Linked DNA regions of Homo sapiens. The protein of the gene in region 5 purifies or fractionates together with the protein of the main gene of each other region. This does not show direct contact. Each region holds a gene or a part of one and is shown on either strand. Other genes may lie near its edges.

What was found.
Region 1: the proteins of OASL (region 5) and RBM28 purify together in Homo sapiens (affinity purification with mass spectrometry; 2 studies listed by BioGRID and IntAct, with this or other methods). This does not show direct contact.
Region 2: the proteins of OASL (region 5) and STAU2 purify together in Homo sapiens (affinity purification with mass spectrometry; 2 studies listed by BioGRID and IntAct, with this or other methods). This does not show direct contact.
Region 3: the proteins of OASL (region 5) and LARP1 purify together in Homo sapiens (affinity purification with mass spectrometry; 2 studies listed by BioGRID and IntAct, with this or other methods). This does not show direct contact.
Region 4: the proteins of OASL (region 5) and DDX24 purify together in Homo sapiens (affinity purification with mass spectrometry; 2 studies listed by BioGRID and IntAct, with this or other methods). This does not show direct contact.
Region 6: the proteins of OASL (region 5) and KRI1 purify together in Homo sapiens (affinity purification with mass spectrometry; 2 studies listed by BioGRID and IntAct, with this or other methods). This does not show direct contact.
Region 7: the proteins of OASL (region 5) and YTHDC2 purify together in Homo sapiens (affinity purification with mass spectrometry; 2 studies listed by BioGRID and IntAct, with this or other methods). This does not show direct contact.

What each region holds. Positions count from the first base shown.
Region 1 is NC_000007.14:128,333,909-128,337,408, reverse strand, and holds part of RBM28 (RNA-binding protein 28), read left to right. Parts: intron 1-206; coding exon 207-278; intron 279-1,366; coding exon 1,367-1,562; intron 1,563-1,729; coding exon 1,730-1,866; intron 1,867-3,500. UniProt on the Homo sapiens protein: Nucleolar component of the spliceosomal ribonucleoprotein complexes.
Region 2 is NC_000008.11:73,547,841-73,551,340, forward strand, and holds part of STAU2 (double-stranded RNA-binding protein Staufen homolog 2), read right to left. Parts: exon of another isoform or gene 1,761-3,500; intron 1-1,760. UniProt on the Homo sapiens protein: RNA-binding protein required for the microtubule-dependent transport of neuronal RNA from the cell body to the dendrite.
Region 3 is NC_000005.10:154,793,377-154,796,876, forward strand, and holds part of LARP1 (la-related protein 1), read left to right. Parts: intron 1-218; coding exon 219-347; intron 348-423; coding exon 424-624; intron 625-723; coding exon 724-886; intron 887-1,798; coding exon 1,799-1,943; intron 1,944-3,500. UniProt on the Homo sapiens protein: RNA-binding protein that regulates the translation of specific target mRNA species downstream of the mTORC1 complex, in function of growth signals and nutrient availability.
Region 4 is NC_000014.9:94,074,703-94,078,202, forward strand, and holds part of DDX24 (ATP-dependent RNA helicase DDX24), read right to left. Parts: intron 1-3,500. UniProt on the Homo sapiens protein: ATP-dependent RNA helicase that plays a role in various aspects of RNA metabolism including pre-mRNA splicing and is thereby involved in different biological processes such as cell cycle regulation or innate immunity.
Region 5 is NC_000012.12:121,032,747-121,036,246, forward strand, and holds part of OASL (2'-5'-oligoadenylate synthase-like protein), read right to left. Parts: intron 998-3,500; coding exon 715-997; intron 1-714.
Region 6 is NC_000019.10:10,552,585-10,556,010, forward strand, and holds the end of KRI1 (protein KRI1 homolog), read right to left. Parts: intron 2,766-3,426; coding exon 2,701-2,765; intron 2,602-2,700; coding exon 2,503-2,601; intron 1,698-2,502; coding exon 1,367-1,697; 3' UTR 501-1,366; downstream 1-500. Other genes in the region: cysteine protease ATG4D isoform 1 precursor, read left to right, coding at 301-483.
Region 7 is NC_000005.10:113,555,194-113,558,693, reverse strand, and holds part of YTHDC2 (3'-5' RNA helicase YTHDC2), read right to left. Parts: intron 2,643-3,500; coding exon 2,560-2,642; intron 1-2,559. UniProt on the Homo sapiens protein: 3'-5' RNA helicase that plays a key role in the male and female germline by promoting transition from mitotic to meiotic divisions in stem cells.

The DNA.
Region 1 (3,500 bases), on a different chromosome or scaffold from region 5:
GCAAAATTTCTGTTCATTGATAAAAAGGTTAAGGGTTAAAAGGAGTAGGCAGTGACTAGGAGCTTTATTTTAAGACCAGCATTCCCTGAATTGGCAGTTTCTTTGTCTCCACTGGTTCCATTATTGTCTGTGATGACTAGGGGTCATTTACAGAGGTAGGGTTTTTAAAAGGAGAGCCTTTCTGATGCCACTTTTCTGCTTGACAGGCCGGACAGTGGCTGTGGATTGGGCCGTGGCAAAGGATAAATATAAAGATACACAGTCTGTTTCTGCTATAGGTAAGATGTGGTAGTGTTGGGTGAGTAGGGGCGTTGTATAACCTGGGTGAGAGTATTGAAACAACTCCTGTGTTCATGATAAAAGTGTAAGAAAAAGGCTGGGTGCAGTGGCTCTTGCCTGTAATTCCAGCACTTTGGGTGGATTGCTTGCAGTCAGGAGTTTGAGACCAGCCTGGCCAACATGCAAAACCCCATCTCTACTAAAAATACAAAAATTAGCTGGGCTTGGTGGTGGGCGCCTGTCATCCCACCTGCTTGGGAGGCTGAGGCAGGTTCTTGAACCTGGGAGGCAGAGGTTGCAGTGAGCCGAGATCACCCCACTGCACTCCAGCCTGGGCAACAAAACGAGACTTCGTCTCAAAAAAAAAGTGTAAGAGAACCTGCTTATCAGAGTAAGACTATTGTGGAAGATTAACCAAAAGAATGAGACTGGGCTTTCAGGGAAAACTCTGAATTCCTGCTGGCTCAGAAGTGAGTCCAGGTCTGTTTGTCAATTCATATTGTACCATTTGGTGCTCTGGTCCCAAAACCTAGGCTCTTTTGAGTCTAAGCCCCTTCCTGGGAGTGGCTGTGAGTGAGCCTGAGTTCACTGTCCCCTTTACTTGCTGTTGTTTCCAGGCTGTGCATAATAGGAGTGATGGAACATTAAGAATAGAGAAACTTAAAACTTGAGGTTTATTTAGAAAACAATTGGCTGGTAAGCCACCAGGGTCTCAGAGAATAGAACGCACTGAGATTAAAGTTCATGGCTTGGCTTTGCCCCCTAGTGAGCATTTTGCTGGCTATGATGTACGAATGGTAGACTGCTTGGAGAGGCTCAGTTGCCACTTCTTTCAGTCTGGGCCAGATGAACCTTCAGACTGATGAATGGGACAAACTCTAAAGGAATCTGGGTGTTGAGAGTTTTGTTTATTTCTGTTTTTGCTTTTTCTTTTCTTTATACTTTCTCCTGTTATATGCAGTAAGAAAAATATACGAAATTCTGTAAAACCGATGAAACCAAGAACTTGGAGTATTGGTTACTTTTGTTAAAATAACATTGTTTTGGATATTAAATGAATTCCTCCTTTCTTTACCTCCCTCCATAGGTGAGGAAAAGAGCCATGAATCTAAACATCAGGAATCAGTTAAAAAGAAGGGCAGAGAGGAAGAGGATATGGAAGAGGAAGAAAACGATGATGATGACGATGATGATGATGAAGAAGATGGGGTTTTTGATGATGAAGATGAAGAGGAAGAGAATATAGAATCAAAGGTGACCAAGCCTGTGCAAATTCAGAAGAGGTAAGCAGCTCATCCTGTTCTGAGACAGCAGAGGAAGATTCAAGATTGTCTCCGAGAGGAAAAATTCTCCTTTTTCTGCCTGCATCATTGCAGAATTGACATGTGTAATGAAATTGAATAGGCCCTCTGTCAGCCCACCTCCTTAGTTCTGATCTGTGCCATTGCAGAGCAGTCAAGAGACCAGCCCCTGCAAAAAGCAGTGATCATTCTGAGGAGGACAGTGACCTAGAGGAAAGCGATAGTATTGATGATGGAGAGGAACTGGCTCAGAGTGATACCAGCACTGAGGAGCAAGAGGATAAAGGTTTGTTTGGATTTTCATAAATGTCTTTAGACTTTAAAAAAGTTACTGAAGTTACGGAAATGAGCATCAGTTCTGCTTAGATCTCTTTTTAAATAGGACTCTAAGGTGTTCTATCAAATTTATGTTTAAATGCTGAAAAGGAAACCTTTATACTCCTTTCTTCCAAAGGTTTTTTTGTTGTTTCCTTTTTGTTTGTTTTGTTTTTTAAGTGAGTTTTGGAGTGGTGTTTGAGGGTTAAGATTCTTAGGGAATTGAAAACCTAGCTTAATGCTGAGGTTCTACCTCTCTCTGGATTGTCCAACTTGATAGAATAACCAGGTAAACAGCATCTTATACAGATAATATAGATGAAACAGATGATATAACCATCTCAACATCAAGCTAGATTTTAAACAACTCCTTGGAGTTGAGATGGGGATAAAGAACTGTTTAGTCAGTTTGGACTGACATAACAAAATACCATAAACTGGGTGGCTTAAACAGCAGAAACTTATTTTCTCACAGCTCTAGAGGCTAGAAGTCCCAGGTGCCAGCTGATTCATTTTGGGTGCAGCTCTCTTCCTAGCTTGCAGACTGCTGCCTTCTCGCTATGTGCTTGCATGGCCTTTTCTTTGTGGCTTGACGAGGGGAGAGAGAGAACAAGTAACAGTGAACTCTGGTCTCTCTTTTCTTATAAGCACAGCAATCCTATCAGATTAGGGCCCAACCTTAAGACCTCATTTAGCTAGCCTCAGTTACCTCCCTAAAGTCTCTGTCTCCAAATACAATTATATTTGGGGTTAGGGCTTCAATGTATGAATTTTGGGGGAACACAGTGCGTTCCATAACAAGGACCTCTTTGAACATGTTGTAAAACTTTAGCCAATCCTTATTGCTACCTTTATTGAGAATAAATTCAACTTGTTTATTGAGGAAGGCAGGTCATTACAGAATGAGAAATGGCTAATAACTGGTTCTTTGATTTGTCTGGGTGGAGATTTTTATTTCAGCTGTTTTTATTCTGATTCCATTTCAGTAAGTCTGACATGTTGGTTTGACCATATAAGAAATCTGAGGAAATAAGCTTTTTCTGTGAGGAGAGAATGGTATACACCTTAGAATCAAAGAAGCTTCTACACTGAAGGGACTCTGAGATCCTGTATTCTACAACCCACAGTCAGCTGTCTCATGCCATTCTTTCACCTAAAAAACTTATAGGACAGATAAATGATAATGATAAAAAGTTAAAACACAACACAGAAGAGTGTAATACACAAAGTAGAAGTTTCTCACCAATCCTAACAATTCCCTGAAGTAATCACTGTTGTTTCTTGTGCATCCTTCCAGATATTTTCTTTGTATGTATAAGCTTATATGTCTGTTCTTGAAAACAAACAGTGAGTCTCCCTTATACCCAGATCCTCAGCTTCTTAGGGAACTTCCCCAGAGACAACCAAGGTTATTTGTTTCTTGTGTATCTATAGATATTTTAATACATTTATAAGCAAAATGCACACATATACACACACATATACACATTCAAAATGTAGTGTATTTTATAATTTGTGTGTGATTGTATGTGTATGTTTTTTCCTCAAAGTTTCCTATGTCCTATACAGTATTTCCAGAAAGTTTACACTGTCATAGTAGTATAT
Region 2 (3,500 bases), on a different chromosome or scaffold from region 5:
AACACACAGTTGGGCCCTCCATATCCATGGGCTATGCATCCAAATATCAAAAATATTAAAAAAGAATTGAAAAAAAACCACAAAAAAGCAATATGGTATAACCATTATTTATATAGCATTTACATTATATTAGGTATTATAAGGCATCTAGACATGATTTAAAGTATAAGGGAGGATGTGTGTAGGTTATATGTAAATACTACAACATTTTATATAAGGGACTTGAGCGTCCATGAACTTTGGTATCTTTGGGGGTCCTAGAACCAATCCTTCCTGCAGATACCAAGAGACAACTATATTCCTAAATGTGGGTGTGTATGTACATGCATTATTTCTTTCTCCATATTCTCCTAAGAGGAATTTACAAAATTGTACTTGTATTGATCTCCTAACAAAAATGAATACCTTATTCTAAAAAAAAAAAAAAAGCTGCTGCAAATAGCCACCTTGATGATAACTATATGGATTGGAAAACATGAGGTATAGGAGAGATAAGAATAAATAGGTGAAAGGTTGATTCTCAGATTCTCAGGGAGACCAGCCACCACCCCCCCACTTCCACCAGCCCCATCCCAATATAACCTATACTAAGTCATATTGTTAAAAAATAAATACTTAAAAGAAGCCTGTGGCTATAAAAACCTGCTATCATCATATTAAACTCCACAAAAGGAGGCATATGAGTTGAAATGTATTCAGCGTGAATTATATTTGAAAAGGAAGATTTTAATTTAAGTGGACAATCTCATCTTGCTGGAAATGGCATGATTATGATCAATAATGAAATGCCCCTCCATAAAACACTCCCTGATTTTGGACAATAAACTAATTATAGTTTAACTAAAACACCAACTAAGTGTTTCTTTATATTATTTATGTGAGGGAAAAAACCTAGTTTGTTACACTATACTCGGAAGGTTTCACAAACAACACTGTTACAGTGGATGATGCTCACAGGAGAGGCACAGAATAGCAAACTGAAATGAAATCCATCTAGAAGGGACGATTTGCTAAAATAATCCACTTTCATTTTCAACCTAATTTTTAATGACTAGTTTAAACAAAGAAACCACTTATATTTATAGATTTCTAATATAATTAGCATAGAAAAGCATATTAAAGATGTGAAAACTTAAAATAATGCAAAGTACAACATGAAACAAATTCTTTCACTTCAGCTCAAATGCACAGCATTTCAAGAGTGTCTTTTGCATAATAAGTTTCTTTAAAAAGCTGAATGATTTTGAAACATTTTGCCATTATAGTAAAAGTGTACACAACAAGGAACCCTGAAACACTATGGTAGGACTACAACTTTGAATGAGTTCTTATAAAATGTGTAGAAGTTACAGAAGCATACGATTAGGCTGAACAACAAAGTCTGAAGTTCACAGAACTACTGAATAAAACATTTAAAAGAATATAAATAAAACGTATTAATACTTGATAAAACTTGAAAGAAATAAACATTCATTTCTGACAGAGATCCAAAAGGTTCGATTCTAAAATACGATAAAAACTTTAGGTGAGACCAAACAAGAATAACAGAACTGCTGAGAATGTGTAAGTGTTCGGTCACATTCTGCTCTCTTAAGTCAGTTTTATTAATAACTTTAATTGTATAATAATTTTACCTATTTTGTAGGTTTAAAAGAATTTGAGCTTGGATACCTACATTCAGTTGATCAAAGTAGCTTTTTGTAATTTATAAATTCAAATTAAAGACTGGGTGATGAAACAAAATTAAAAGTTAAAACAACTTTGTTTTCAATACACTCATATATTTTTACTTTGTAATACAATATAGCTGTCACATACAATGGCTCTAGTAGGCTTAAATCAAATTGCAATGGGCAAGGAAAGCCAAAGAAGGGTTTACACAATATTCAATAAGCAACAGTATCTGTTCAGTGTGCAATAAAATAAAAAAGTTCTAACCTAGAAACACAGAAAAAGAATTTATTGTTTTTAAGTTTCAGAAATAAAAGTAACAGAATAGTGTATAATCTGTAACAAGCTGGTCCTGTAATTTCTAAACTACAGTCCAATTAAAACATTTAAGTAATAGAAACAATCTACATGTTTTTCTACCAGGTAAATATACCTGAGAGGGTTACCTATAAAGAAATAGGCTTTAAAACTTTTAACCACAAAGAACCTTCTGCTGCGACATTATGAAGATGGGCTATGCATGTGGCCAGACTAAGTCATTTCCCGGAGATTCTGCTCACTGCTTAGCTGCAGGTAGTGGTCCATCAATGACAGAGTATTTTACATCAATACCAGCTCATTCAACCAAAGAAGCACAGTAATATTTTAAAATCACCTGTTTATATTCATTAGTATGTAAAAATCACAATACACAGATTTGGAAACATATAACGTGTCCATAAAAAAGAGTATATTATGTAAGCATAAGCTTTTTAAAAAGGCCTTAGCAATGCAATAATGAGGGAAGCAGACTCTACATGTTGACTACAGTGAAGATATGTTAAAATTATAATTATTGTCATTGCCAAGAGCTTAGAAATAAAAACAAATTTAAAAAATTAAGACATTCTGGTAGCAAAATTACAGCTACTGTAACAACAGCTCCAAGCAAAAAATCAATTCAGAGCTTGAATGCAATTTGTGCTTTGTTTCTATAAGAATGCAGTGTTACTCTCAGACATTTCTAAATGATTAGATTCATAAATAAGCAGTTAATTTCTTTTCATCACAATTTATTTCTAATTCATCCTACGGAGATTATAGATAGAACTAAAAATTACTTAGCTTTTTTCCAGTACTTTATATAAATTGAGATCTTTTTTAAACAGTGATTTATTGTGTTTCTTAAGGTAAAACAACAAAAACAAATTCTAAAATTGTAACTTTAAATTAAGTGGTTAAAATTTCAGATGACAGAGCCGATAACTGGTAACAGCTTCTTGAAGTTCATATTAAGAGTCCAATTAGAAACACTAACAACTACCTGGCAATAGTTTGAAAGAATCAGAAGGGTTCGGTGAAGTGAAAAAAAAATCCGAACATGCAAAATACCCCCCAAAACACATGACCTTCTTTTTCATTTTATAATCTAAACTTGTAAAATATTTATAAATACATGATCATTCTACACAATACAGATCTTCTAGAGCATTTCTAAAGGATATTACAGTTTTTGGTCTTAAGGAATAAAGACTAAGATGGAAAAGGAGATGAAAACAGTGAAATCTGAGGAAGCAATACACTCTCTACACACAAGCAAACTAGTTCATCCAGTCAAGTTAGCGGTTACAGTTCAGTACATGATTTTCAAGGCAACTAAGAAATCAAGACACAGATATTTCCCCTTCCTAGAGTTTACAATTCTTTCAAAAGCTCCAATGTATCCATAAAGGAGTGCTGATTTTTGTGGGGTTTTTTCCCAGAAGGAAACAAAGAATAAATAGGGGAAAAAAAGTTTCCATCCCTAAATTCACATACACAACAAGTTAAGTTAAACTATAAGCTAGTTT
Region 3 (3,500 bases), on a different chromosome or scaffold from region 5:
TCTTGGGAGTTAACGAGGAGTCTCTAACACACTGACGGCCACTGACCAGCTTATTTTAGAGATGAAAAAGAGGGCTAATGTGTGGGAAAGGGATCTGCCCAAGGTAACCAGATTGTGATTTGGGCCCAAGTCCAGGGCAGAAGAAGAGGAGTTGGGTAGAGCTGGCTAGGAGTGGCCTCTCCCTCAAGCCTTTCTCATGTACCCATGCTGTCTCCCAGGAAACAAACACAAGTGGGTTCCATTACAAATAGACATGAAGCCTGAAGTGCCCAGAGAGAAACTGGCTTCACGCCCCACTCGCCCACCGGAGCCTAGACACATACCTGCCAATCGCGGAGAGATCAAAGGTATGCACTACCCACTATGGAGGGCCTGGACTTGGGAGACACCCTCAGGCCTGACCTGGTACCCCTCTCCCCATAGGGTCTGAGTCTGCCACCTACGTGCCCGTGGCCCCCCCCACCCCAGCCTGGCAACCAGAGATCAAACCGGAGCCTGCCTGGCACGACCAGGATGAGACATCGAGTGTGAAGAGTGATGGGGCTGGTGGGGCGCGGGCTTCCTTCCGTGGCCGTGGACGGGGGCGTGGTCGCGGCCGGGGACGCGGCCGGGGTGGCACTCGAAGTACGTGAGGCCCCTTTGGGCTCCGGGATGTCCAAGGGTGTGCAGCAGGGGTGGTGGGCAGGAATCTCCTCTCCCTCATGGCACCCGTTTCCCCCATAGCCCATTTTGACTACCAGTTTGGCTACCGAAAGTTTGATGGTGTGGAGGGGCCTCGTACGCCCAAGTACATGAACAACATCACCTACTACTTTGACAATGTCAGCAGCACCGAGCTTTACAGTGTGGATCAGGAACTGCTCAAAGACTACATCAAGCGCCAGATGTGAGTGTGCGGAAGCCTTCTTACCCTGGAGAAATGAGTGAGAGGTTAGGGGTTGCTAGAGTGTCATAGCTGGGCAGGCCCTTCTGGTGCTTAGCAGCAGTTTCAGCCTCAGGCTGAAAAGATAGCTTTTCTCATTGTTTATTAAAGAAGTGATACCACATTCTCATTGTTTATTACAGAAGTGGTACAACATTTACCTTAAGAAAGTTAGAAACTATACCATTACAAAAAGGAAGGAAAATATTTAGAATCTACCCCCTTCTGTTCTTCCATTTGTAATGACAACATTGACAGAATACTAACATTTATTGAATCCTTAGTATCGGCCAGGCTCAGTGTTTATTGTTGTAGAGGCATTATCTTAGTCCTGCAGTTCTTATCTGTTGAATTCCTATGAGCTGAGTCTTTTAGCCCCAGTTTATAGACAAGCAAACCGGCCCAGTAATTTGCACAGAATCTCACAGCTAGTAAGTAACAAAGCACAGATTTAAATCCTTTTCTGTCCTATTATAGAACCTTTGTTCTTAACCACTCTGATATATTGTCTCTCAGTCCAGTAAGGAAGTCATACAAGAAAATAAATGGTTGCAATAGAGTGTTTATAAGTGTTTTAGGAGCAGAAGAGAAAGTGACCAACAATATTTGGACTGGAATTTAAAGGAGGATGAGGAGTTTGACAGGCATGTCGAGGGGCTTAGGGCAGAGGGAGTGATTTGACCCAAGCAAGGTAGGGTGTCATGAAGGGATCACATCATTTCTTTTCAGCCCTCAACACTGTTGGTATATAGGATAAGGATGGGGTAGGTCAGAGGCTGTGTGAGATTGCTGGGGTGTGTAGCAGAACAAGGAAGGCATACTCATAAAACTGATGCACCAATCCCTCGGTGATAACTACTTCTTCCCTCCACTTAGTGAATACTACTTCAGCGTGGACAATTTAGAGCGAGACTTCTTCCTGCGAAGGAAAATGGATGCTGATGGTTTCCTACCCATCACCCTTATTGCTTCCTTCCACCGAGTGCAGGCCCTTACCACTGACATTTCACTCATCTTTGCGGTATGTCTTCCTCCCTGGAGCTGGGATGCAGGGGAAAGAAAGGTCCTTAGGGAGCTGGAGTTTGGGCCAAGGCAGAAAGCCCTGGAAGAGTCATCATCTGATGACTTCTGCTGAAGTCTCAAGGCTTGGCTAGTCTCCTCCTCTCCCTCCTTCCTTCCTTTCTCTCCCTCTCTTGCTCATTATGGAAAATGTCAGACACTTAACAAAAGTAGAGTAGTATAATGAGCCCATCATCAGCTTCGGCAGGTATCAGTTTATGGCTAATCTTATTCCATCTGTACCCTCATCTGTTTATTCTCACATACTACATTGAAGAAAATCCTAGAAAACCTAGCATTTTGTTCACAAATATTTCAGTATAGATTTCTAAAAGATAGACTTGTTAAAAGAAAATAGCCACAGTATCATTATCATACCTAAATTAACAGTTTAACATATTAACAGTTCCTTAATATCATCAAATATTTAGTTCAGATTCATCCCAATTGGCGCCATATATATATTTATATATATATTTTATATATATTTATATATATTTTATATACATTTATATATAAAATATACATTTATATATATTTATATATTATATATTTATTATATATTTATATTTATATATTATATATTTATATATTATATATATTTTTATACATATTATATATTTATATATTATATATTTTTATATATATTATATATTTATATATTATATATATTTTTATATATATTATATATTTATATATTATATATTTATATATAGTATATATATTATATATATATTTTATATATTTATATATAGTATATATATTATATATATTTTATATATTTATATATTATATATATATTTTATGTATTTATATATTATATATATATTTTATATATATATATAGTTTGTGAGAATCAGAATCCAAATAATACCTATAGGCTGGGTGCAGTGGCTCACACCTATAATCCCTGCACTTTGGGAGGCCAAGGGGAGGGTCATGTGAGCCCAGGAGTTCAAGATTAGCCTGGGTAACATAGCAGGACCCTGTCTCTACAAAAAACTAACAAGACCTGTGTATTGTCTTATTAAGTCTCCTCTTGCCTCTATTTTTCTTTTTCTTTGCCGTTTATTATTTGAATAGACTAAGTTGTACATCCTGTAGGATTTTCCACAGGGCACAGGGATGTCATTTTAACATGTTCATCTGTACTCCAAGTTTTTTGTAAATTGTGATCTAGAGGCCTGATCAGATTCAGGTTTTGAAGTTTTTTCCCCTCCTTGTCAAGAATACTTTATCATAATGATGTATTTTCTCTCAGGTGGCACATAACATTTCATTTGATTGTCTCTCTTGTGCTATAAGCTGCCAGCAGTGTTCGTTAGGATTGCAAAATGACAATATACTAATTCTGTCAGTCGGTCTTCATTTATTAGGTGGAATACCTCTTCAAGAAGTAACTTTGCCTCATCAACTGTTCAGTTACCAAGAGGTATAGTTTGTTCAGGAAGGGCAGATTAATGTTTGATCTTCCTCCCTTTGTTAGCCAGTTTGCATAATTATGAGTTGATCTCTAATA
Region 4 (3,500 bases), on a different chromosome or scaffold from region 5:
AAGGTGTTAGCCACTGCAATACAACAAGAAAAACAAAAGGCATCCAAGACTGGATAATGATCATCTTTGCAGAAAATACCATGGAATCCTCAGAAAACTACTTGGTGGAACTAAGTTGCAGGACACAAGATCAATATACAAAAATCCATCATATTTCTACTTATTGGCGACAAACAATCGGAAATAAAAAATTTTAAATTACCATTTACAATAGAATCAAAAATATAAAATGCTTAAGGATAAATCTAACATAAGATGTGAAAAATCTATATACTGAAAATTTTAAAACATTGCTAAGAAAAGTTAAAGATCTAAAGAAATGGAGAGATACCATATTCATAGACTGGAAAATTAAATATTGTTAAGACGTCATCTATCCTCAATTTGCTCTGTAATCAACAGAATCCCAATCCAGATATCAGCTTACTTTTTTTGTAGAAACTGATATAACGGATTCTAAAATCCATATGGAAGGGCAAAGGCCTACAACAGTCAAAATAACTTTTAAAAAGAACAAAGTTAGAGGACTCATACTACCTGATTTTAAGACTTATTATAAAGCTATTATAACCAAGAGAATAAGAAACTGACATAAAGACTAGACAAACAGATCAATGGAAAACAAAAAGACTCCAGAGAAAGACCCACACCTATATGGTCACAGACTTTCAACAAAGATGCAAAGTCAACTCAGTGGAGAAAGAATAGTTTTTCTACAAATGGTGCTGAAATAATTAGCCATATGCAGAAAAACCCACAAACTTTGATCCATACTTCTCACTCTAAATAAAAGTTAACTCAATAAGGATCAGAGACCAAAACATAAAACCTAAGACTATTAACACTTCTAGAACAAAACACAGGAGAAATCTTTGTGATCTTGAATTAGGCAAAAGGTTCTTAGATAAAACACCAACGGCACCAAAAGCATAAATTCATAAAAGACAAGGCTAATTTGGATTTCATCAAAATAAAGACTTTCTGCTCTTTGAAAAACACTGTTAAGAGAACGAAAAGATAAGCCACAAACTGGGAGAAAAATTTGCAAATCTCACATCTGATAAAGGACATGTATCTAGAATACACAATGAACTCCCAAAACTCTACAACAGAACATCCCTATTTTAAAAATGGGCAAAATAATCAAACAGACAAATAAGCATATGCTAAAATGCTCTACATTGCTAGTCACTAGGGAAATGCAAATTCAAATGACAAGGAAATAATAGTAAAATTTTAAAAGTCTAAAATAAAATTAAAGACTGAGCATACCTAGTTATTGACAAGAATATGGACCAACTTGAACTCATACCACCTAGTGACAACGTAAAATGGTATAATCACTTTGGAAAACTCTTTAAAAGTTACATTTACCACAAGACCTAGCCATTCCACACCTAGGTATTTATCCAATAGAAATTAAAGCACATATCCATACAAAGACTGGTACAATAGTATTTACAATAACTATATTTGTAATAGCCAAAAACAAGAAAAAGCACAAATGTCCATCAATAGATGAACAAACTGCTCTACCCACACATTGGAATACTATTCATCACTAAAAAGGAATGAACTGCTAGTAATTGTAATAACATGGCGTAATCTCAAATTATGCTGAGTCAAAGACTCAGATACCACCCCCTCCAGTACATATTATATGATTTCATTATATAAAATTCTAGAAAACGCAAATTAGGCCGGGGACAGTGGCTCACACCTGTAATCCCAGCACTTTGGGAGGCCGAAGCAGGCAGGTCATGAGGGCAGGAGTTTGCGACCAGCCTGACCAACATAGTGAAACCCCGTCTCTGCTAAAAATACAAAAATTAGCCAGATGTGGTGGCAAGTGCCTGTAATCCCAGCTATTCGGGAAGCTGAGGCAGGAGAATCACTTGAACCCAGGAGGCGGAGGTTGCAGTGAGCCGAGATTGGGCCACTGCACTCCAGCCTGGGTGACAGAGCGAGACTCCGTCTCAAAAAAAAAAAAAAAAAGAAAGCAAGAAAATGCAAATTAATCTATAGTGATAGAAAGCCTATCAGTGGTTGCCTGAGGAGGAACAAGAACTGAGGGAGGGAGGGAGGGACAACAAAAAAAACCCAGGGTATCTTTTTGGGGGTAATGGATATACAGTTGACCCTTTAACACAAATTTGAAGGTAGGGGTCCACTTATACACAGAATTTCTTCCACCTCAGCCACCCTGAGACAGCAAGACCAACCCCTCCTCTTTCTACTCAGCCTACTGAAAGTCAAGATGAAGATGAACACATTTATGATGATCCACTTCCATTTAATGAATAGTAAATATATTTTCTGTTCCTTACAATTTTCTTAATAACATTTTTTCTCTAGCTTATGTTACTGTAAGAATAAAGTATATAATACAAAATATGTGCTAATAGACTGCTTATGTTATCTGTAAGGCATCCAGCCAATAATAGGCTATTAGCGTTTAAGTTTGGGGGGAGTTCAAAATTATACATGGATTTTCGACTGCACAGGGGACCAATGCCCCTAATCCCCACATTAAGGGTCTATTTATTATTGCATGGGCAGTGGTCTGTTCACAGCCCCAGATGGATGACTTATCCAAGTCGTTTTGAATTCTGGACTTGTAGATTCACAACCTGACAGGAACTGTGGTATACATCCAAATGTCAATCTCTGGCCACAACGGCTCATATAAACCTTGTTTCTGCCTTCCACGGACTTACTTCCAGGACTCTGCTGCACATACCAAAGCAGTGTAGCAGAATGCTTAACAACACACAGAACTAGCCTGGAATCCATACACTACCATTTCAGTTGTGTAATTTTAGGGAAGCTGTCTATGCTCTGTGAGGCTGAGTTTTCTCATCTGTAACATGGGAATAATGGTACTTACCCCAGGGTGGTTGTGACAACCGATTTCATCAACATAAAGCACTTAACACAGTGCATGACACATCTTAAATGCTCAGTAAATGTTCTAAGTTATTATCTCCATTCCCCTTTCCTGTAGTTCCTCACTCTTCCATCTATATGACTGCCACAGAACATCATCCTGAGTTTCCTGACCACTGTTCCAGAAACCCAAAGCACGTGTCTACTGAACACTTAAAATGTAGTTACTCTAAAATGACATGTGCTGCAAGTTTAAAACACACCAGATTTTGAAAATTTAGTAAAAAAAAAAAAAAGAACATAAAATATCTCACTAGTTTTTAACTTTTAAAAAATGTGACTCCTAGTAAATTTTAAATTACTTATGTGTTTCACATTATACAGTCACCCTTCTGTAACCGTGGGTTCTGCATCTGTGGATCGACAATATTCGGGGGGGTAAAAAAAAAAAAACTGTATCTGTACTAAACACTGTACAGACTTTTCTTGTCATTATTCCCTAAACAATACGGTGTAACAATTTACATAAGACCTATGTTGTATGAGATATTATAAGTAATCGAGAGATGATTTAAAATATACAGGAGGATGTGCCTATATAGGTTATATGTAAG
Region 5 (3,500 bases):
CAGTGACAGACCCCCACTCCCACTTTTAGCTCCTTCCCCTCACTGGGTGTCAGAGCCTCCTGAATGTTGTTTCCCCAGAAAGTCACTTCCTGAGCACCCTTTCTGTGGTTACCCAGGCCACCCCATTCTTTTTCTCTGAGCATTTACACCATTTGCAATCATGTTTTTTTGTTTGTTTTTTTGTTTTTTGTTTTTTTGAGACGGAGTCTTGCTCTGTTGCCCAGGCTGGAGTGCAATGGCGCGATCTTGACTCACTGCAACCTCCGCCTCCTGGGTTCAAGTGATTCTCTGCCTCACCCTCCTGAGTAGCTGGGATTACAGGCGCCCACCACCACACCCAGCTAATTTTTTGTATTTTTAGTAGAGATGGTATTTCACCATCTTGGCCAGGCTGGTCTTCAACTCCTGACCTCATGATCCACCTGCCTTGGCCTCCCAAAGTGCTGGGATTACAGGCGTGAGCCACCGCGCCCAGGCTGCAATCATGTATTTATCTCTGCAATTCTTTGGTCAATTTCTGTATTCCAAGTTGAGCAATATGATAGCCAGAGTTGAGTTAATCCTGTGCACTGCAATAACCCAGCCCCAAGCATAGGACACAGATGAAATGAATAAATGTGGGTGTGTGCACGTGGCCATGAGTAAAGGTGAGACACTGGGAAGTCTCCTGGGGTGGGCAAGTGTGTGAGTCGGGTGAGCTTCCCCTCCCCTTACCCAGGGCTCTGTAGGCAGGCACAATGGTGACCGTGATGGGCTCCGCAGTCCCCCTGGTCTGGATGGTGAAGACGAGAGCATCGGGGACTCTCTGCTCCATCCTCAGGTCCTCGAGCCCGAGGTCCAGCAGGTCCTGGCTTTGCCACATGGTTTTCCATATCAGCCTCAGAACATCTTTGTGATGCTTGGCTGCCTCCTGGAAGCTGTGGAAACAGCTCAGAAACGCCACCAGCTCCACCTCTCTGGTGCTCCTGAGAACCGTGCCATTCCCGAAGGAGCCCACCTGCAGAACACAGAGCCCCGTCACCCTGAGGCCCACTGCCATGAGCCAGGCAACCCCTGCGGCACTTCACATGCACTGTCTCACTGAATGCTCACCACCCGCTGAGGGATGGGTTGTGGGTAGTACTAATACCCACACTTTACAGGTGAGAAAACTGAGATGTCTGGAGGATCTCGAGACATGGGATGGAGAAATGGGGCAGCCTGAAAAAGATCTTGACACTTCCCTGTTTCTTAGCTAGGTAAATGTTCTGACTCCTAAGACCTTCATCTCTAAAATGAAAGCAATGGCAGAATATGAGTCACTGGGCTACTGGGAGGATCAGATGAAATAATGTATGCCAAGGGTTTGGTGGGGTGCCTGGCACACAGGAAGTCAGCAACACATTTGTCTTTCTCCTCATTAGTCATTTGTCTCAGGTCTCGCAGTTTGCAGCCCTCAGAGCCCAGACTCTTTTTTTTTTTTTACACAGGGTTTCACTCCCGTTGCCCAGGCTGGGCTGCAGTGGCATGATCTTGGCTCAAGCAATCCTCCCACCTCAGTCTCCCAAGTAGCTAGGACTACAGGCCTGCGCCACCATGCCTGGCTAATTTTTGTATTTTTTGTAGTGACTGGGTTTTGGCATGTCGCCCAGGCTGGTCTCGAACTCCTGGACTCAAGCGATTTGCCCCCTTGGCCTCCCCAAATGCCCAGCTTCTTATCTACTACACTGCATTGCTTCTGAGACCCAGTCTTCTTACCCACAGAGTAAGGCCTACTCCAGAGGAATGGTAGCATCTACTCCATAGGGTTGTTTGAGGATTCTGGGGGTGGTGGTGGGGCTGAATAATTTCATGACATTATAAAGCAAGGAGCAAGTTTGCCTGGTGGATTTAAGAGCCATAGGCTGTGAAATGGAGCAGCCTGAAAAAGATCTTGACTCTTCCCTGTTTCTTAGCTGGGTAAACATTCTGACTCCTGAGACCCTCATCTGTAAAATGAAAGTAATGTTGGAACAAGAGTCACTGGGCTACTGGGAGGATCAGATGAAATAATGTATGCCAAGCGTTTGGTGGGGTGCCTGGCACACAGGAAGTCAGCAATACATTTCTCTTTCTTCTCATTATCCAGCTGACTTAGACAATCTCTTCTGCTGCCGGGGGGTCAGTTTTCCTGTTAGTAATGGAAGGAGGTCGAGAAGGGATTTTTCGATGTTTTGAGATTCTAGATGAGCTCTCCAGGCCCTGGTGCCTCTGGTATGCAAAGCGCCACAACTCTCTGGCCTCCTCTCCTTCTCATTCTGTGTTGGGAGGTGGAATTGCTAGGGAGGCATCAGACCCCCAGAAGGCTACTTTTCTTGGTGGTTGGAGTCACTGCACAAGAATCAGATTCCAGCTGTTGCCGGATGATATAACATGCCCTGTGTGACATGAGCACGGATGCTGGATGACATGAGCACGCCCTGTGTCTGGCACCCATAAGAGCCCTGTATACATATTATTCCTTTTAATCTTTACTTCCCAGCCAGGCATGATGGCTCATGCCTGTAATCTCAGCACTTTGGGAGGCCAAGGTGGGCGGATCATGAGGTCAGGAGTTCGAGATCAGCCTGGCCAACATGGTGAAAGCACATCTCTACTAAAAATACAAAAATTAGCCAGGTGTGGTTGTGTGCACCTGTAATCCGAGCTACTGGGGAAGCTAAGGCAGGAGAATCGCTTGAACCCAGGAGGCAGAGGTTGTGGTGAGCTGAGATCTCGCCACTACACTCCAGCCTGGGCGACACAGCGAGACTCCATCTAAACAAAACAAAACAACAAAAAAAAACGCCTTCACTTCCTGTATTGAGGTGGGTACTAGGAGAATTATCTCCAATGTACAGATGAGAAGACTGAGGCAGTGAGGAGCTTGCCATGGTCTCCCAGCCAGAAGGCAGCAGAGTCAGAGAAAGAGCCAGAACTCAAGTAGGGGATGGTTCTTCCGCCTCTTTCTTCCTCGTGACCCAAGGCTGTGAGCCAGGCCCTGCTTCCAAGGGACCATGGGCATTCAGACCCAGCACCTCCACCCCCTGGGAGAGGGTTGGAGATGGCACCCTGTGTGTGAATGAAGGACACATTCCCCCCGAAGGCCAGTCTAGACTTCCCTTTCTTTTTGAGACAGGGTCTTGCTCTGTTGCCCAGGCTGGAGTGCAATGGCACGATCTTCACTCACTGAAGCCTCGACCTCCTGGGCTTAAGCAATCCTCCCACCTCAGCCTCCGGAGTAGCTGGAACTACAGGCATGCACCGCCATGCCCAGCTAATTTTTTATATATATTTTTGTAGAGTCGGGGGTCTCACCATTTTGCCCAGGCTGGTCTCGAATTCCTGGGCTCAAGCAATCCTCCCACCTTGGCCTCCCAAAGTGCTGGGATTACAGGCGTGAGCCACTGTGCCTGGCGTAGACTTCCCTTTCTGCCTTTCCCACTGGTAAGATCCAGGCAGAGAGAAAAGAACACATCCAGAACAGGCTTCCTGATTTGCTT
Region 6 (3,426 bases), on a different chromosome or scaffold from region 5:
GACCAGGACTCTACCCTTATGGGGGCGAGAGATGGCCACCAGCCATTCTGGGCACCCACCCTGTGGTCACTGGAAGGGAAACGCAGGTTTTGCAGCAAAAATCCCAGGACTGTCAGTCTTTGGCTGAGCTGGGTCACATGCTCATGGCTGAGCCAATCACTGTGGCCAGGGGATGGAAGGTGCTGATTGGCTGCTCTCTCCTGGAGAGGTGGTCCTGAGAAGCACCTACTAAATAAACCTGGGCTAAGGAATATGGCTTGGCACTGTTTGTGGCTGACCCTGTCTCCCTCTTCCCGCCAGGTCCTCAGCTCCTCCTCAGCCACAGAGCGGTACCCCATGTTCACCCTGGCCGAGGGCCATGCTCAGGACCACAGCCTGGACGACCTCTGCTCCCAGCTCGCCCAGCCCACACTCCGGCTCCCTCGCACAGGGCGGCTCCTCAGGGCCAAACGCCCCAGCTCTGAGGACTTTGTGTTTTTATAAAGGGAGGGGATGAGGGGAAAGATACAACACTATTTATTTTTTTATTTATGTCATGTCGGGTGTGGGATCTTGAGCTCTGGCAGTGATGATGGTACTTCCTGTTGTCAGCCCCTCAAGCCCAGCTGCAACCAGTCTGGGGCCATTCAGCCAGGGACAGAGCCCACAGAGCCCATACACCTGTCTCCCACCAGCGGGGCCCTCCTGGCAGGGTAGGGAAGGAGGACCCCGGGCACCCCCCTCAGGGCCTGACTCACGTACTGTAGTTTGCACTGGACGCCCGGGCCCTCCCTGTCCCAAAGCCCCCTTGGGGGAACTGTGGCTGCTGGGGGCCAATAAAGCTGTGTAACTTGATCGTGGGTGTGGCTGGGCGCAGCGTTCTGAGGGGATGTGGGGTCTGGGAGGTGTCTCGAGGTGAGAGCTCCAAGTCACGGGAAGTTTAAGTCAGCCTCAGTTTCCACATCCATAAAATGGGACGACTTCCTTACCCACAGCTACACGTGTTTTTTAATTTTTTTTTTTTTTTCAAGAGACAGGGTCTTGCTTTGTTGCCCAGGCTGGAGTGCAGTGGTGCAATCATAGCTCTCTGTAGCCTCAAACTCATGGCCTTAAGTGATCTTCCTTCCCCAGCCTCCTGAGTAGCTGGGACTACAGGCATGTGTCACCACATTTTGTAGAGATGGAGTCTCGCTAAGTTGCCCACGCTGGTCTCCAATTCCTGGGCTCAAGTGATCCTTTCACCTCGGCCTCCCAAAGTGCTGGGATTACAGGCGTGCCTGGCCACAGATGAGAGGATCTCTGCAGCAGATAGTACTTGTGGGTGCGAGACCTGTCCAGGGCTTGATTTGAGGAGAGGAGCCTGAGGCCCCTGCCTGCTCCCTGGTGCTCAGGAGCTGTTCTTGGGCCCCTGTTGTTTCCTCCGCTGCCGGCCCAGCTGGCGGAAGTGCAGCCGTTTGGGGTTGAGGCCAAAGGCCTGCAGTCTCTGGCGGCTGAACTCGCATCCACCAAGCATCACAGTGGGGCCCAGCAGCCGTGCCTTCTTGGCCCTCCTCCGCTTCTGGGGGGCTGGCTTCTTGTGGGGTGATACAGGGGCTTCCTCTTCCTGTGCTGGGGGACTCTCCGGCCCCATCAAGCTGCCATCAAGGGCTGGCAGCTGCCTCTGTGGGCCGGCTTCATCTCTCTGTGGCTTCCCTGTGGCTTCCGCAGGTGTCTCTGCCCTGAGGGAGAAAAGTCAGGGCTCAGCCCAGGCCTGTCAAGATCAGGCCCATTCTTGAGCACGCATGCCCCATTTTACAGACAGGGAAAGGAGGGGCATAGTGAAGCAGCCGCACAGCGACCGAGGGCCTGCCTGGGATTCAGACCTGGGTTTCAGGCCAAAGCCAGCGCTTTTCTACGGAACCCAAAGACTAGATTGTGAGGCTGAGGATTCTGGTATTTGTGCCTGGGCCTGCCCTAAGCTAGTCACATCAATTAACTCATTTTAGCCTTTTTCTTCCTTAGAGACAAGGTCTTGCTGTGTCGCCCAGGCTGGAGTGCAGTCGCGTTACCATAGGTCACTGCAGCCTCCAACTCCTGGGCTCAAGCGATCTTCTCGCTTGAGTCTCCCAAAGTGCTGGGATTATAGGTTGGAGCACACACCTGGCCTCATTTTAGCTCTAAATAAACTGTGTGCATCTATCACCCCTGCCTTCTAGACTGGGCGAAAGCAATCCTAATAACAGCTAAGACCTATGGGGCATTTACCATATCTTAATCACTTTACGAGAATTAACTCATTTCATCCTCTGCAACTTGATAAGGCAGAACCGTCTCTATCTCCATCTTATGAGAAAGAGGCCCAGAGAGGGGTAGCGACTTGCCCAAGGTCACACAACGTTGGTGCCCATATAGGATTCGAACCCAGGTCTCAGAGCGGGGGGCGCTGCATTCCCAAAGTCATGCAACAAGAGGTTGACGGAGCCAAGACTCAAGCCTGGGCCTGACAGGCTCCCCACCCACGCTTCCCCAGCCAGCACTGCTTACTCTTCTCGGCAGAGTGACTTGAAGACCTGCCGCTTTTTCCATGAGTTCTGGGCCTTCTGGCTGTACGCCCGCTTGTCCCGCAGCTCCTCCTGCTCTGACCTGCAGACAGATGCCCCTGTGTTGGGTGCTCTGGGAAGTGCCCGAGGCTGCCCGCCCTGCCCCCTGCGCATGTGGCCCCGCCGCGCCCCGCCCCATCACCTGTACATGCAGGTCTTCTTTAGGGAGCACCACCGGTTCAGCTCCTTATCGTCAGCAGCGAGGATCTGCGTGGGAAGGGAGAGTGGGGACCTGCTGTGATATTGCCCAGGCGGGGCCTTCCCTGAGCCTAAGTCATGTCATTAGTCAAAACGGTAATGCCGCTACCACCCAGCAGGGTTGCCATGATGGCCAGAGACAGCTGATCTCTACAGAGGCCAATGATTTTTGTAGAGGTCAGCAGATGGGGTAACTGAGGCTCAGAGAACGGATCCTTGCCCTAGGCCAGATGGCTGGGAAGTTGGCTGAATTGATTCCAGTTTGAGCCTCAGGGCCCTTGAGCTGTCACCCATACCCGGCCATCCCCAAAGCCTCAGAACGGGCAGGGGTCGCTGCCAACCACCAGGCTTCCTAATTACATATGAAACTGTCATTCCCAGCCTCTAGGCCTGTTTCCAAACCTACTGGAAGGCCATCAGAAAGAGGAAGTGATTGAATGCCGATGGTATAAGCTTAGTACACATCGGCTATTTTTACTGACCATGAAAATGGTCGTGCACCTTCAGCCGTCATCAGTCAGGCATAGTAGGTACCCACAGCCTGCCAGGTGCCACACACTTTGGTCTCATTTCTGTTCCTTCCATAGTCACCAAAGTTGGGGTGCTATCAATTATTGTCTCACTTTACAGATGGGGAGTTGAGGCACAGATAGGGGAATCATTTGTCCAA
Region 7 (3,500 bases), on a different chromosome or scaffold from region 5:
CCTCAGCCTCCCAATCCACTTCGATTTTCTACAGGCAACTCAAACTCAAAATAACCAAAAATTAATTATTCTCTCCAGTGAAAACACTCTTCCAATTTTCCCTATCTGACTATGGCACTACTGTCCGATTTTTTAAGACAGAAACCTGGATGACATCCTTAACTCCACTCTCTTCCTTACCCCTCACCCCCTACATACACAATCAATCACCAACATTACTTTCTTTAGTATCTCTTGAATTAATTATCTATTTATTTTTATTTCCACCACCACTAAAACAATCCAGACTACTTTCATCTCTCCCTTATTATAGGAAAGTATTAATGAAGAAGCCTCCTACTGGGTCCTCCTACCATCATTTTTGTTCCTGCCAATCCATTCTTCAGAGAGCTGAAAGAATACTATACTCATGTCATCCCACTGTTTATTTTTTTAAAAAAGAGAGAAAACTCAAAATGGTCCTTAAAAACTTGTCCCCAACTTTCAGCTCATTTTTCACTATTCTCTAAACTAAATTCTATCCAAACATCCTCCCTATTCACTCTTGCCTTTAGGCAAATAAGTATACCTGGTTATACTTTCCCTCTGCCTTTTAGAAATGCCTCCCCCTTTATTCACAATTGTCTCAGATTCATTCTTAACAACTCTGGAAACATCCAGTTGTAGCACAAATAACACTGTATTAAAATTGCTTAATTTACTGGACTCCCACATGGACTGCAACATTTGCCCTACCTCCAGCTTTACCTATCAGGCTATGGTTTATTTATCACTATCCGTAACATGTGCACAGGGAAGACTTTTGATAAACATTTGTTGAAAAATGGCAATGAAAATTTTTGCAGTTCTGGCCTTCATCTCCAATAATATACTATTTGTTATTTTATTTTTTTTGAGACAGTGTCTGGCTCTGTCGCTCCGGCTGGAGTAGAGTGGTATGATCACAGCTCACGGCAGCTGCAGCCTCGACCTCCCAGGATCAGATGATCCTCCCACCTTAGCCTCCCAAGTAGCTAGGCCCACAGGCCTGTGCCACCACACCTAGCTGATTTTTTAATTTTTTGTAGAGACAAGGTCTCACTATGATGCCCAGGCTAGTCTCAGACTCTTAGACTCAAGTGATCCTTCCACCTCAGGCTCCCAAAGTGCTGGGATTACAAGCATAAGCCACTACACCCAGCCTTACCCACAATAATATACTATTAATAGCAGGGACATCCAGCTTAATGTATCAAGCCACTATTGGTCATAAGAAAACAACTGACATAACAACAACAAAGCCCTCATGGGCATTCTATGAAGTTACAAAGTAAAGAAATAATGCACATGAGTCTTCAGTATATGAGGCATTCTTTGAAAGTCAGCATTTCATGTTTTCCTGCTAATTATAATAAAATGCAAGATAAATATTTACTGAAAATGATACTTTTTAATGTTATCTTTTGAAAATTAAAAAGTAACCCAAACACTTAGTAAAATAACCAAATTACAAAAAAAATAAAATTGTCTCCTTACTCCAAGAACCCCACAAATCCTCCTTCTCAGAGTTAACAATCATTCATTGTTTTTTAATGTTTCTCCCAGACTTCTCGATGCATTTGTGTCAAAATACATACACAAACACACATATATTTTTCTTACCACAAAAGACTACTAGATGCATGTTCTGTATCCTTTCAATTAACAATGCATCCTGAAAACTCATTCCATATAAGAACACACAGATCTACATTTTTCCTTTTAACAGCTACCCAGAAAGCCACTGTGTGGCTATAATTTATTTAATCACTTCAGTATTGATGGACATCACACTGTTCCCAGACTTTACATTATTATAAACAATGCTTCAAAGAACAGTCTTAAACATACATCTTTGCACACGTGTGCAAGCATACTCAGGATAAATTATGACAAGTGGAATCTATGGTCAAAGAGTAGATTTGGATAAATAGTTTCAAATTGCACTCTGAAGAAGTCACACCAATCTATACTCCCATCAGTAAAATATGAAAGACTATTGGCCCATGTTTTTCCTCTATGTTGTACATACTGTTAAACATTTTCATCAATGCCCATCTGAGATTCAAAAAATAATACCTCATTAATTTGCATTTATTTAGATACATATTAGGTAGTATATGTGAGGTTAATGTATTAGTAGGACATGCATATTTTTTATTTTGGTAAATTGCCTATTTGTGCCCTTTATCCATTTTAACTGGATTATTGGCCTTTAGTTGATTTCAAAGAGCTTCTTTATATAATAAGGAAATTAGCTCTTTGTCCTACATTGCATATGTTTAGAATTTTTGGTTTTGTTTTTTAAGCTTCTTACATCTGAATGTACATTTAACTAGGCAAAAGTTTTTAATTTTAACATAACCTACATTCAACTTTTAAGGAAGTATCAAAATGGCTTGCTTTGCAAAAATAATATAAAAATTTTAACATGAAAACTACTATTTTATTGAACATGGAATATATGATAAATGTGTAATGCATATAAAAACGTTTCCATTTTACAGGCAATTGAATGAATATACATTAAATATACATTACCTGCCTTTCCGCTGTATGGCACTAGCTTTGGAAATCCATACCATTTTTAACATTGTAACAAAATTCAGAGCATCAAAGGATTTCTGTAATATTTAAACCATCTTTATGTTAGAATATAAAAGGTATTTAAAAGGTAATAGCAAGAATGTTATCAACATATTTTAACATGCCAAAAGTTTAATTCAAAGTCCTCTCTTGATTAAATAATTAAAACAGCAGTACTGATTTTTAATAAACCCTGATTTTCTGGTTACAAACATACTAAGAAAAAAGGATTTAAAAACTAAACTCAGAAGAGCGTAAAACTTCTCCATTCTGTGCTCTGCTGAGCTATTTGTTGCTCTCTGCCACAGCTGGATAATGGCAGCCAGTTCTCATAAGACATCAAGATTGGAGAGAACGGATCTATTCCCTTGAGGTCACTTTCCTATCAGATTTGCATCACTGTGCAGAATAAGAAGATCAAGGAAAGACATTTTCTGAAATACTTTTCAGGGACCTAACCTTGTGGAGTAAGAATAACAATCAATAATCTTATCCCAAAGAGAAATATTTTTAACCACTTCCACTTTACTTCCTGCTGAGCTACTAACAAAGTTAGCCTTTCCCGAACGTTACAATGAAGAAAGTAAAAAAGAACCATTGTTATCCACATACTTATTCAAATAACCTACAGTGAAAATTTATTGTAGAGAAATATTTTAAAGAAATACAAGCCTAACTAGAACATGTATTTCAGTCACTCGGTACTTATACTTTCCCTTTCATAAAATAACTGCATAGAGCAAATAAAAATGTTTGCATAATAGTTTATAAAATTTTTAGAAAACAGCTTATTTGGTTTTTAATATGACATTACATTTGTCAATTTTGTATGTTAAATAACTTTTGACACTACCCATGTTTTAAATTTCAGTTACTTAATAAATAAGTAACACCTA